Linked DNA regions of Homo sapiens: region 2 is linked to region 1. A link means that fine-mapping ties the variant in region 1 to the plasma level of a protein whose gene starts in the linked region. Region 1 holds a variant in brackets. A gene starts in the other region. All regions are shown on their reverse strands. Region 1 overlaps ARVCF (ARVCF delta catenin family member). Region 2 holds the start of CDH15 (cadherin 15).

Evidence for each region. A credible set is the group of variants that fine-mapping cannot tell apart. PIP is the chance, under the fine-mapping model, that this variant and not a neighbour inherited with it causes the effect. The UK Biobank Pharma Proteomics Project read protein levels with antibody pairs (Olink). The fine-mapping took linkage between variants from a reference panel, not from the people measured, so its PIPs are less certain.
Region 2: it holds the start of CDH15, and the variant in region 1 is the best candidate, but not a certain one, in a credible set for the plasma level of the CDH15 protein (UK Biobank, PIP 0.72).

What each region holds. Positions count from the first base shown.
Region 1 is chr22:19,969,990-19,975,347 of GRCh38, reverse strand. It overlaps ARVCF (ARVCF delta catenin family member), which reads left to right. Exons shown (of 20, transcript NM_001670.3): 12 at 1,109-1,236; 13 at 1,555-1,705; 14 at 2,031-2,229; 15 at 2,312-2,423; 16 at 2,521-2,611; 17 at 2,937-2,990; 18 at 3,377-3,462; 19 at 4,013-4,132; 20 at 4,605-5,358. The coding sequence ends at 4,120. Among named protein-coding and RNA genes, the nearest start is that of MIR4761, 8.9 kb to the right of the region's middle. The variant C/G (reference allele first, on the strand shown) is at 2,265.
Region 2 is chr16:89,168,931-89,174,288 of GRCh38, reverse strand. CDH15 (cadherin 15) reads right to left here and starts at 2,541. Exons shown (of 14, transcript NM_004933.3): 1 at 2,416-2,541. The coding sequence starts at 2,457. LINC02138 (long intergenic non-protein coding RNA 2138) reads right to left here. Exons shown (of 3, transcript NR_046200.1): 3 at 5,142-5,358. RefSeq lists a silencer at 2,466-3,105.

The sequences.
Region 1 (5,358 bases):
CTGAGTTATCTGAGGGGGCTGGGAGCCAGGCGGGCATGCTCACATCCAGGTTCAGAGGCTGGGCCAGACGAACACCTGCAGGGACAGGGCAGTGCCTATTGGGCTGTATGCTGGGATCTGGCTTGAGAGAGAGGTCTGTCCTGGTGGGGCCTAGCCAGTTGGAAGAGCCTGCATGTCACCAGGGTGGAGGGCTCCAGCCGCAGGAGGGCTGTGGGGGAGTATTACAGGCAGAGCAGGGCTGATGCAGATACCCCAGCGGGGAGTGTGCTTGGAGTGTGTTGGAGCAGAAAGCCCAGCAGGGCAGGAGTAGAGGGAGCATGGGGCATGAGGACTGGCGAGGGTGTGATGAAATGTCACTGGGTGGGTACAGGGGAGATCGAGGTAGTACCCAAGCCAGGCTGAAGCCCCAGTTTGGAGACAGGCAAGCTTGGAAGGCTGTTTTGACCCCTCATTTCTGGAGCACTGGGCAGAGCAGCAGGACGGCGCCTCAGTTGCCCGGGAACTTGGAGTGGTTGCCAGGAAGAGTGCCTCCTGTTGCTAGGGCAGCTGCCCTGGTTGCACTGCATCAGTTGACTTACAGAGGGTGGGCTCTATTGTCAGTGGGGGAGGGTGGGCCCTGTTGCTAGGGGGCGTAGCTCTCTGCACAGCTTCAGTTACTGGTGAAAGCAGGTCCTCTTGCTAGGGGTGTGGCCTTGGTTATACAACTCTCAGTTACTGGCCAATGCTGGTCTTGTTGCCAGGGAGGGTGGGCCCTATTACCAGGGGCGTGGCCAGGATGCATAGCTTCAGGGACCTACCGGGAAATGCGGGTCTTGTTGCTAGGAGAGCGTTCCTGGTTGACACCTCCCTCCCCACCCCAGGCCTCCTGGATGCTCCTGCTGCCAGGCAGGTCCAACTGATTTGAGCCTCAGTTTGTTCCTCTGTGAAATGGGAACGCTTTTCCCCTTGGGTGACTATATGTTGATAGTAAATATTACGTGACTCATCCACACCCATCCCTGGCCCCAGCTCACCCACGCCCTGGGAGCTCTGAAGCGGGAAGCGGGAGGGGTATGATGGATGAGAGCAGATTCTGGGTGACCGTGGGTGGCGGTTGCCCTGCACCTAGGCTTTGAGCTGCTGTACCAGCCCGAGGTGGTACGTCTCTACCTCTCCCTCCTCACGGAGAGCCGGAACTTCAACACCCTGGAGGCTGCCGCCGGCGCTCTGCAGAACCTCAGTGCCGGCAACTGGATGGTGAGGGACCAGGTCGGGCAGGGTGGGCAAGTCCTGAGAGAGGGAATCCCAGGCACCTCACTGGTGCAGCTCCTGCCTCGGCTGGCGGGGAAAGGAGGGGCCACACCACCACCCCAGGATCCAAGAGGTGTATGGGCTGCGGGCAATGCGTGCACCCTGGACGGTGGGAAAACCTCGGTGGAGGTGCCGTTGAGCTTTTGGGGTAGGGCTTTGTCGGGCACGGGAGCAGGAAGGTCCAGCTGGAGAGAGCGGTCAGCGTCTGGAGGTGGGAGAGTGCCTGGCATGTATGTCTGAGCAACCCTCTCCCCGCCTCCGCAGTGGGCCACGTACATCCGCGCCACAGTGCGCAAAGAGCGCGGGCTGCCGGTGCTTGTGGAACTGCTGCAGTCTGAGACCGACAAGGTGGTGCGCGCCGTCGCCATCGCTCTGCGCAACCTCTCGCTGGACCGGCGCAACAAAGACCTCATCGGTGAGGACGCCTGCAAAGCCCACGCCTGGGCACCGAACTGTGCCTGCAGCTTTGGGGTCCCATCGGAGGGGCTTGGAGGATGAGTGGTTTGGGAGTCCAGGCCCCGGCCCTCTCGCTTGGGCGCTGTCCCAACTGGAGGTAGCTCCAGTCCCCCCGGCCCTGTCTCTGAAGCTCAGCGCCCTGCTCACAGGGGCTCCTGTGACCGCCTGCACACAGGCGGTCTCCAGGGGCTCTCCTGGCAGTGCCCCTCGCCCTCGCGGGATCCCTGCTCCTTCCTGGAGAGGTGGGGCAGAGGTGTGTTCTGACACCTAGTCCTGCCCCTCAGGGAGCTACGCCATGGCTGAGCTTGTGCGGAATGTGCGCAATGCACAGGCTCCGCCGCGACCGGGGGCCTGCCTGGAGGAAGACACCGTGGTGGCGGTGCTCAACACCATCCACGAAATCGTGTCCGACAGCCTGGATAACGCGCGCTCGCTCCTGCAGGCACGCGGGGTGCCAGCGTTGGTGGCTCTCGTGGCCTCCAGGTGTGGAGGGGCGGGGTCGGTGGCTTGGGGAGCCG[C/G]GGAGGTGGGGGAGGGGCCACCACTGACCCCGCCCCCGGCCCCACAGCCAATCGGTACGCGAAGCGAAGGCGGCGTCACACGTGCTGCAGACAGTGTGGAGCTACAAGGAGCTGCGTGGTACCTTGCAGAAAGATGGTTGGACCAAGGCGCGCTTCCAGGTGCGGCTTCCCTGGCCTTCCTTCCATTCCCTGCTCACTTTGCCTTATTCCCACTCCATGTGCTTCACCCACCCTGTGTCTGTGTTTTATGTCTCAGTCAGCTGCTGCTACTGCCAAGGGGCCTAAGGGAGCACTGAGTCCTGGGGGCTTCGATGACAGCACGCTGCCACTGGTGGACAAGAGCCTTGGTGAGTGGTGGAGCTTAGGGAGCCTAGAGGGTGGCGACCCCAGCTGCCCCAGTTGCCTGACCCTTGGGTGAAGGTGAAGGAGGAGTCAGGCCTCCCACTGAGACGGCTTCCATAGGCCACTTTCCCTGCCCTCTGCCTCTTGGCTACTCCCTTCCCACAGCATCCGCGCTGTTGTCAAGCTGGGGTGAGGCTGCCAGCTGGCAGAGGTTGGGCACCTTAGTGACAGAGAGCCTCTAGGGCTACCTGGGCCAGCCCTGTGTGGGCTTCTCTGCCCCGATCCCCCCTGGCTGCCACATGCAGCCCGTCTCCTCCTCCTGCCTTGCAGAGGGCGAGAAAACTGGCAGCCGGGATGTGATCCCCATGGATGCGCTGGGCCCAGGTGAGTGCAGATGCAGTGTGGTTGGTTTTCTGTGCCGGGAGGGGACCAAGGCCTGAAGTGGGCCTGCTGGTTTTATGGGGTGTAGATGGTGCTGGGTGGAGGAGAGATATTTGGTTTAGGGGTGCTTAGAGGGTGAGGTACAGGGCAGCTAGAGAGGGATTAGTGCTCAGCCAGGGGCTCTGACCCACAAGTGGAGGGGAGTCTGGAGAGTTGGCAGGGTGTTGGTGAGAGCTGGCACCAGCCTGGATCTCCAGGACAGGGTGGGTGGGGGCTGTCTCCCAAAGCCCCTGTCCCACGAGTCCCCTGTGTCTGGGCTGAGAGGGAGATCTGCTCCTACAGGGCCTCCCTCAGAGCGCCCCTCATGCCCCACCTTACCCCATCTACAGACGGATACTCCACGGTGGACCGGAGGGAGCGGAGGCCACGGGGCGCCAGCTCTGCAGGAGAGGCCTCTGAGAAGGAACCCTTGAAAGTAAGTGGTCATGTGGCTGTGGGCAGGTCCCCGGTGAGGCCCCGTGTCTAGGGGTTGCTGGAGAGCAGCCTAGGCCATGCTGGGTCTGGTCTGGGCCCTGGGGTACAGCTGGGTTGTGGGGCCAAGCCCAGGAAGCAGCCCCTTCACGCCAGTCAGTCTGTGGGTACTGACAAGTTTGCAGCTCCCACCCACTGGGGACAACACTGCCCGGCCACACCCTGCATGGGCCAGAGCCTGTGAGCTAGTGTGTGTGCACCCTTCTGTGCATGTGCGTGTGAGAGCCCACCAGGGTCCACCAGCGATGGCAGGACCTGCTGCCTGCTGTGTGCCAATCCCCTGGCTTCCTGTGCAGGCCTGTGTGTGTGCACGTGCCCGCCCTGGGCCCGTGTGAGCCACACGTTTCCGGCTCCCTGCGCCCTTGGTGCTACCTGTGCTGTCCTGGCAGGCCAACCCTTACATCGCCAGCCTCGGCCCTGCCCCTGCCCTGTCCCCCCAGGAGCTCTAACTAACCTGCTCTATTGTGCCTCTAATGCCCACCCGTGCGCTGCAGCTCGACCCCAGCAGGAAGGCCCCTCCCCCCGGGCCCAGCAGGCCCGCGGTCAGGCTGGTGGACGCCGTAGGGGACGCTAAGCCTCAGCCCGTTGATTCCTGGGTCTAGCTTGCATGCCTGGTACGTTCTCTCATCTGGTTGTTCGTCCACCTGTTCCTGCCCTCTGGGCCAGGGCTTCTTGTTAGTCTCCGCTGCCTGCACGCTCTGCTCTTCCCGCACGTTCCCCGCAGGACTTTGGCCTCCAGTCCAGCAGCCCAGTGGCCCATTCCCGGAAAGACCAGGCAGAGGTCAGAGAGGGAGGGTGCTCCCTGGGCCCACAGCCCTGTCCCAGGCACTGTGGGATCAGGGGCCTGAGGAAATGGGACCAGAGTAGGGATGGGCACCATACCCTCCAACGCCCTTCGGGGACCAGCAAGTCAGGATCAGCCCTGGTGCCAAGACCCTTGGGGTCAGCCCACACCACCCAGGGCAGATGCTTCTATCCACATCTCCATCCATGTAGCCTGTGGAGTTGGCTGCCCTGCCCTGAGGTTACACGTGGTCCTGTGCCACTCAGTGGCTGCAGCGTCCACCATCCCCTTTCCCTCTGCAGGGCCCAGGCCCAGCCTCTTGTTCTTAGGGCTTGGATCGTGGAAGAAGGGCCACCCTGAGCAGATCGTGCCGTGGAGCTTGGAGCCCCCTGGCGGCAGGGGTTGGCAGCGCCTCGCCCCAGCCAAGCCTGACTTTGGGGACACCCTCCTGCCCCCCCACCCCACTCCCCCCATCCTACCTAACTCCCTAGGCCTGAGTTAGCTGTTTACTGACATGGTGCTGTGTGTGAGCGAGTGACAGAAGGCCCGAGGAGGCCGACTGGGCTGCTGGGGCAGGGCCCAGGGAGGTGGCAGGGAAGGGTGCCTGGCTGGGCTTTGGGGCTGGTGGGATAGGAGGGTGCCCCTGGGAACACAGTGCCCCAGTGGTGCGGGCCAGGTCTGGCGCCAGGGGCAGGCAGCTAGGCAGGGAGGGGGCTGGGAAAGAACTTGGACTTCTAAAGGCGGAGGGTCTCCCTGGGCACCCTGCAGGCAGGCAGACCACGGTGTGGGGGGTGCCCCACAAGGCCCAGCCCTGGGCAAGGAAGCTTTGGAAGCAGCAAGGTGGGGGTCAGGCTACAGGTGCCCCACCTCCCCAGAGCCCTGCAGTCACGTGAGGCCCCTGTGCAGTAGAGAGCCTTTCTCCAGCCCATGCTGGCTGGGGCCGGGGCTGCCGCATCTGCCTGGAGCCTGGGCAGCACCTCCGGGACTGACCTTCGGCAGTGGCTGGGGGACTGCTTTCAGTGCCTGCTGTTCGTGACTCAGAAACAGAAGAAAAAC
Region 2 (5,358 bases), not on the chromosome of region 1:
CTGGGGCCACCCCGTTCCTGGATGGCCAGGCATGCCAGGAATGGCCCCAGCTGTTGGCCTGGCCCAGAGCGGCTGGAGCATCTTCCCTGGGCCCCACCCTCTCTAGCTGCTGCGGGCTTCAGAGAAGGGATGTGGAAGAAGAGGCATGGAGGCAGCTGTCCCCTCCAAAGCACGGTGTCTGGGGCTGTCCTTCCACTGTGGGAAGAACAGTGGCCTGGGAGCCACTTCCCTTCTTGGCCTTGGTCACAGTCACCCGAGCTAAGAGCCCCTGCCTGGCCCCCAGGGTGCTGCTGACTGTCTCCCAGAGACCAAGGGGCTCCCAAAACCCAGATGCAGAAGTGGGGACCTTCCCAGCAGGCTGGGGTTCTCTGTGAGTCAAGTGTGCTGCCCCAGACCTCAGCCGCCTCCCAGCTGGGGTGGGGTCCCAGGTGTAGAACCAGCAACTAGGGATGGTGTAGGTGCAGCAGGGCTGAGAGGGGCCAGTTCTGAAGACACCCTCCGGGTGGGGCTGAGTGAGCTCAGCAATCAGAGGTGGCCCGAGCAGGGGAGCAACCCCTCACTTGTAGAAGGCCCTGATGGGCCCACGCTGCCTGCCTGGGGGCTCACCAGGAGGCGGCCCAGGACCCCAAGGCTGCCCAGGAGAGCTCACAGTCCTGAAAGCTGAGCTGCTGGGGGAGGGGCAGGCAGGGTCCTGACACTGACATATTTTGCCTCACAGTGGAGTGAATTTGAGCCTTGGCGATAGTCCCCTTGCCATCTGGCCCCCACCTCCACCACCTCCCCCAGCCTCCAGCTGTCGGGGGAGGGGGTTATTGTCCCCCAGCCCTGGGCGAGAAAAGAAGGGACAGTGAGAGGGAAGGCTTCTGAGGAGGGAGAGGTCCTGCCTGCCTCCCCACCTGCCACAGAGCCCCCTGGGGCCTTTTGAAAGGCAGACACTCCCAAATCCAAAGGAAGAGGTCTGGAGGAATGTTTTCACAGGCGCCAGCCTCCCCACCACCATGCCCTGGGTTGGGGTGCCAGGGAAGAAACCCTGTCCCCAGAGCAGGTGGGGAAGGGCCCTGGAGGCATGGAGCCCCCCAGCCTGCGCTCCCCGGCAGAGGGCTGAGGGGTGGAGGGCCGGGGGGTGAGCACGCATGCTGAGCCACTGTCTCCCCCCACCACTGTCTCCAGATGGGGGAGTCGGGGGTGGCAGGAGCCGTGGTGCCCTCAGGGGCAGCTGCTGGAGGGTCTGGCTGGCCAGGCGCCTGGTCAGCTGCCAGGGGCTGAAATTGGAGCCAGCTGGAGCTGGGAGGCCTGTGGGAATGAGGGGACTCAGGAAGCCCCTTCAGTGGGGGCTGGGAAAGGAGTGGCTTCCCTTACTCACTGTGTCCAGCACTCCCTGACCACCCCAGGACCACAAGAGCAATGAATACTGTGAGCACCGCTAAGCCCTTTATGTGCATTCTCTCTCGAATTGGCCAGAGAGAGGCTGCCCTCTTGTACCCAGTGACGTCCCAACCACAGCCGGCCATGCCCCAGCCCAGCCCAGTCCCTGGGGGCTGAAGCCACTGAGGCCACATCCTCCATGTCTAGGTCCCCCTAGGGTGTGAGGAGACGTGGCTCCAGCTAGGCAGTACCCATGTCGGGTGTGGGGGGCTGAGGCCTGGGCTTCCTTCCACTCTGGCTTGCTCCCACGTTGGAGAGACCACGGTGCCAGCAGTCCAGACAAGATTTTTAGGGGCAGAGTCCAGCAGCCTCTGGGGGCTGGGCCCCCAGGCCTGATCACCCCAGGCAGCTGCGGCAGGGTCCCAGGTGAAGCCCAGGAACAGAGCCCCCAGGGCTGCCACACGCCACTCTGCAAGGCCGTGTGTTGCGACCTGGCTCGGGCTGGGCCCTCCCAATCGAGAAGTAGCCGTGAGGGTGAGTTCCTGGGGGCAGGGCCTGCAGCCACCCCTGCTGGCCAGGAACTTGGGGTGGGGGGTTTGGACAAAACCCAAGACTAGCCAGGGGTCCTGTGCCCACCGCAGGGAGTCCCTATAGAAACCTGGCCCCCAGCCCCCCAGAGAGGGGCACTCCTGCCGCTCCCCCCTCTCTCTGCTCCACTCAAGACTGGCAACCCCCAGACCCCGGCAGCGGTTCCTCCAAAGAGAGGGCACGGCTACCTGGGTGGCCCCTGCCTGGGGTCCCTGACCCCAGCAGCACTCTGCAGTCCTGGGGGTGATTCCACCAGATGGAGTGTTTGGTTACACTCACTCCCCACAACCCCTGGGGTGCTGCCCCCAGCCCAGGGACCCACCCGGAGCCACTCCGCTCACAGGCCCCCAAAGGCGACCAGGGCCAGTGGTTCTGGGGGAGACCTGTGCGGCTGCAGTTGAAGACACTGTCCCGCAGCGTCGAGGGAGGCAGCGGGGACCCCCGCAGGTGCCGATGCCTTACCTGGGCCAACAGCCCGAGGACGAGGAGGAACGCGGCGTCCATCGGGGCCGAGGCGGGAGCCGGGCCGGAGTGCACCCGCGACCCGAAGAAGCGCGTCCAGGCTGAGTGACAGCGCAAGTGCGCGGGGCGGGCCAGGGCCAGAGACAGAGACAGCACGTGTGAGGGGGGCGGGGAGGGGGCGGGGCAAGGGCTGAGTGACAGCACGAAGGAGGCCTCTGACGGGCCGAGGGCCGGCCTGGGCAGGGCTAAGGCTGAGTGACAGCGTGTTGGCAGGCGGGTGGGGCGGAGCCTCTGGCGAGCTAGGGCGGGGCGCAGGCTGAGTGATAGCCCGTGTGCGAGTGGGGCAGGCGGGGCGGGGCCGGGGCCGAGGGCTGAGTGACAGCGCAGGTGCGCCGGCGGGGCGGTGACCGCACGAGGCTGGTGGGGCGGAGCCAGAGGAGGATGGGGCGGGCGGGGCGGGGCCGAGGGCTGAGTGACACCTTGTGAGAGTGCGGGGTGGGGCCGGGGTGGGGCCGGGGCGGGGCCGAGGGCTGAGTGATAGCTTTTGCGGGGTTCCGGCGGGCAGGGCCAGGGCTAGGTCGGAGATACCCCGGCTTGCTGCGTTGGGAGCAGAGCCAGAGGCCAGGCTGTGGGGAAGGCAGGGTGGGTGCGTCCGGGTCAGGGACCAGCTGGGATTCCTGGCTTCTTCATTTCCTGCTCCTTGGGCCCGGCTCGCCCCTGCTCCAGGGAATCTGCATTGTAGTCCCTGCCGGGGGACACCTCTTGAGCACTTCCTTGGGCCCCTCGCCTCTCTGGCTGCGTCTCCTGCGCCTCCCCGCATCCCACTGAACGCTAGGCCCGCCTTCCACGCACCTCCTCGCGACCTCATTTTGCCCAGCTCTTATTCAGTATGGAACTGCTCTGGTTCACACGCCTCTGATACCAGCGTGGCTCGTAGGACACCCCCAATTCCCCCAGTCCACGCACCTCCTCCAGCATCCCCTTGTTCCCCGAGGCCCCCTGCCTGGAGCACCTTCCTTCCTACAGAACTCCTTCTCATCATCCCTCAACACCCAAGGTCAACGCTGCCGCCTCCTGGAGCCTCCTTGCCACCTCGGCCAGAAGCCCTCCCTCCTGTTGACTGTGGCACCTGTTCTCCCCTTCGAGACCCCGCCCCCTGGGATGGTGTGGGTGTGGCTCAACACCTGCACAGGCCCAGCGCACGGTCAGGAAGGTCCTGGAGAGGGGGTGGAGGGGGCTGGAGGCAGGAGGATCCTTTCTTTTGAGCAGGCAGGGTGGGGAGTGGGGGTTGCCGACCAGCCCAGGGCCGGGCCGGGGAGCCCGTTCCTCTCTGTGATGGGAGCAGACCCGGTACCTCTGCTCTCCTGTCGACGGCGGGTGGCTGTGCAGGTGCAGGCAGCATCTGTGCACTTGGCCTGCTTGAAAGGAGGCCAGGCTGCCCGGGAGGCTCAGGCCAGGACTGTCCCTAGCGCTCACTGCTCCAAGATGAGAGAGGGCAGGGAGTCCATCTCCAGACTGGGAGGCCTCTGGGGCTGGGGTGTAGCCTGTTGGGGACCACCATCCTGCCTCTGTGGTCAGTGACCTCAAAATAGGGGTGGAGAAGCCCTCTGAGTGCTTTTGGTTTTCATCCTCACGGGACTAGTGCAGGGGTGAGGTAGAAGTGCTCGCCCTCCCCCCAGAAAGAGGTCTGGGGAGGCTGCGGTCTGCCAACCCCAGCTCCTCTCCGCTTCCACCCTGCACCCACCTCGCTTCAGCCACCTGCCTCCCACCCACCTCGGGGAGAAACGGAGGCCAAATCCCTCCTCCATGGGATGTGGGGGTCTCTAAGGGAAAGGCTAAGCTGGGCCAGGTCCTGGGTGAGCCCCAAATGCAGGGCGGGGCCAGGGAAGCAGCCGGCTTAACCACTGCGGGAGGGTGTGCTCCCTGGCTGGCGGGCTATCCCCCAGGGGCAGGTGCCCCCGCGAGGGACCCCGCTCCACATGCTCCCAGGGCAGCAGGAAGGTCAGGAGGCAGGAGCCTGGGTCCAGTCCCAGCTCGGAGCCTTGGGCTGGAGGTTCTCCCCCGTGCCTCAGTTTCTCCTTGTGTCAGAGGTAGGTGGCAGGGAAGGGCTGGGTACCCTGAGTCTGGAGGTCCTGTGCAGTGGGGGCAGGGGTACATTTTCGGCTGCAGGACCATCAGCCCTAGAAGAGCCCTTCCCTTTCCTGGTGGACCTGGAGACGCCGGACCCTCCCTCAGCACCCCAAGCCTCCAGCTAGGACCCCACTCTGGGCCTTCTCCTCCTTTTTCCAGAGTCTGCAGTCCTGAGCCTTTGGGACTCACCCCCATCACTCCTGCCCTCTGCCTTGCCCACCTCAACTCTCCACCTCGGGGGACGCACCTCATGGGCATGAGGTGGGGGTGGGCCGGCCAAGATGTAGAGGGGGCTCCCTGGTCCACAGCCTCAGTTCCCATCCTATTTCCTCTCCCCAGTATGAGGAACGGGGGGACAACAAACAGGGTCCCGGACCCCCCAGGAGCCTTGCAGTCTTGGATGTCCCAGAGGTCCCCCCACCCCCAGCCCTTGGCCACTCCTCCCAACACCGCAGGCAGTGGTCGAGGCTGGGCTAAGGAATTTCCAACTTTCTCACGATAGATGCAGGCGGGTGCCGGTTTTCAGCTGAGATGCCATGGTGTCTGCTCTGGAGTGATTCTGTAATTGCACAGTGCAGTAACGGCACTTGACCCTTGATTATTAAATTGTATTTATGTAATTACAGTGTATAAATATACATGCACACCCCAACCACTAAGGGGCAGGCGTGATGCGGAACGCTGCGGTTGAGCAAGGTGGGCTGGACAGGGGCCCTGTGGAGGCCCAGGGCTTAGGCCAGTCACAGCCCCGTTACCGAAGAGGCAGTGGGGGCTGGAGGGCAGGGGTTAGCAGCTGTGAAGGCGGCTCCTACC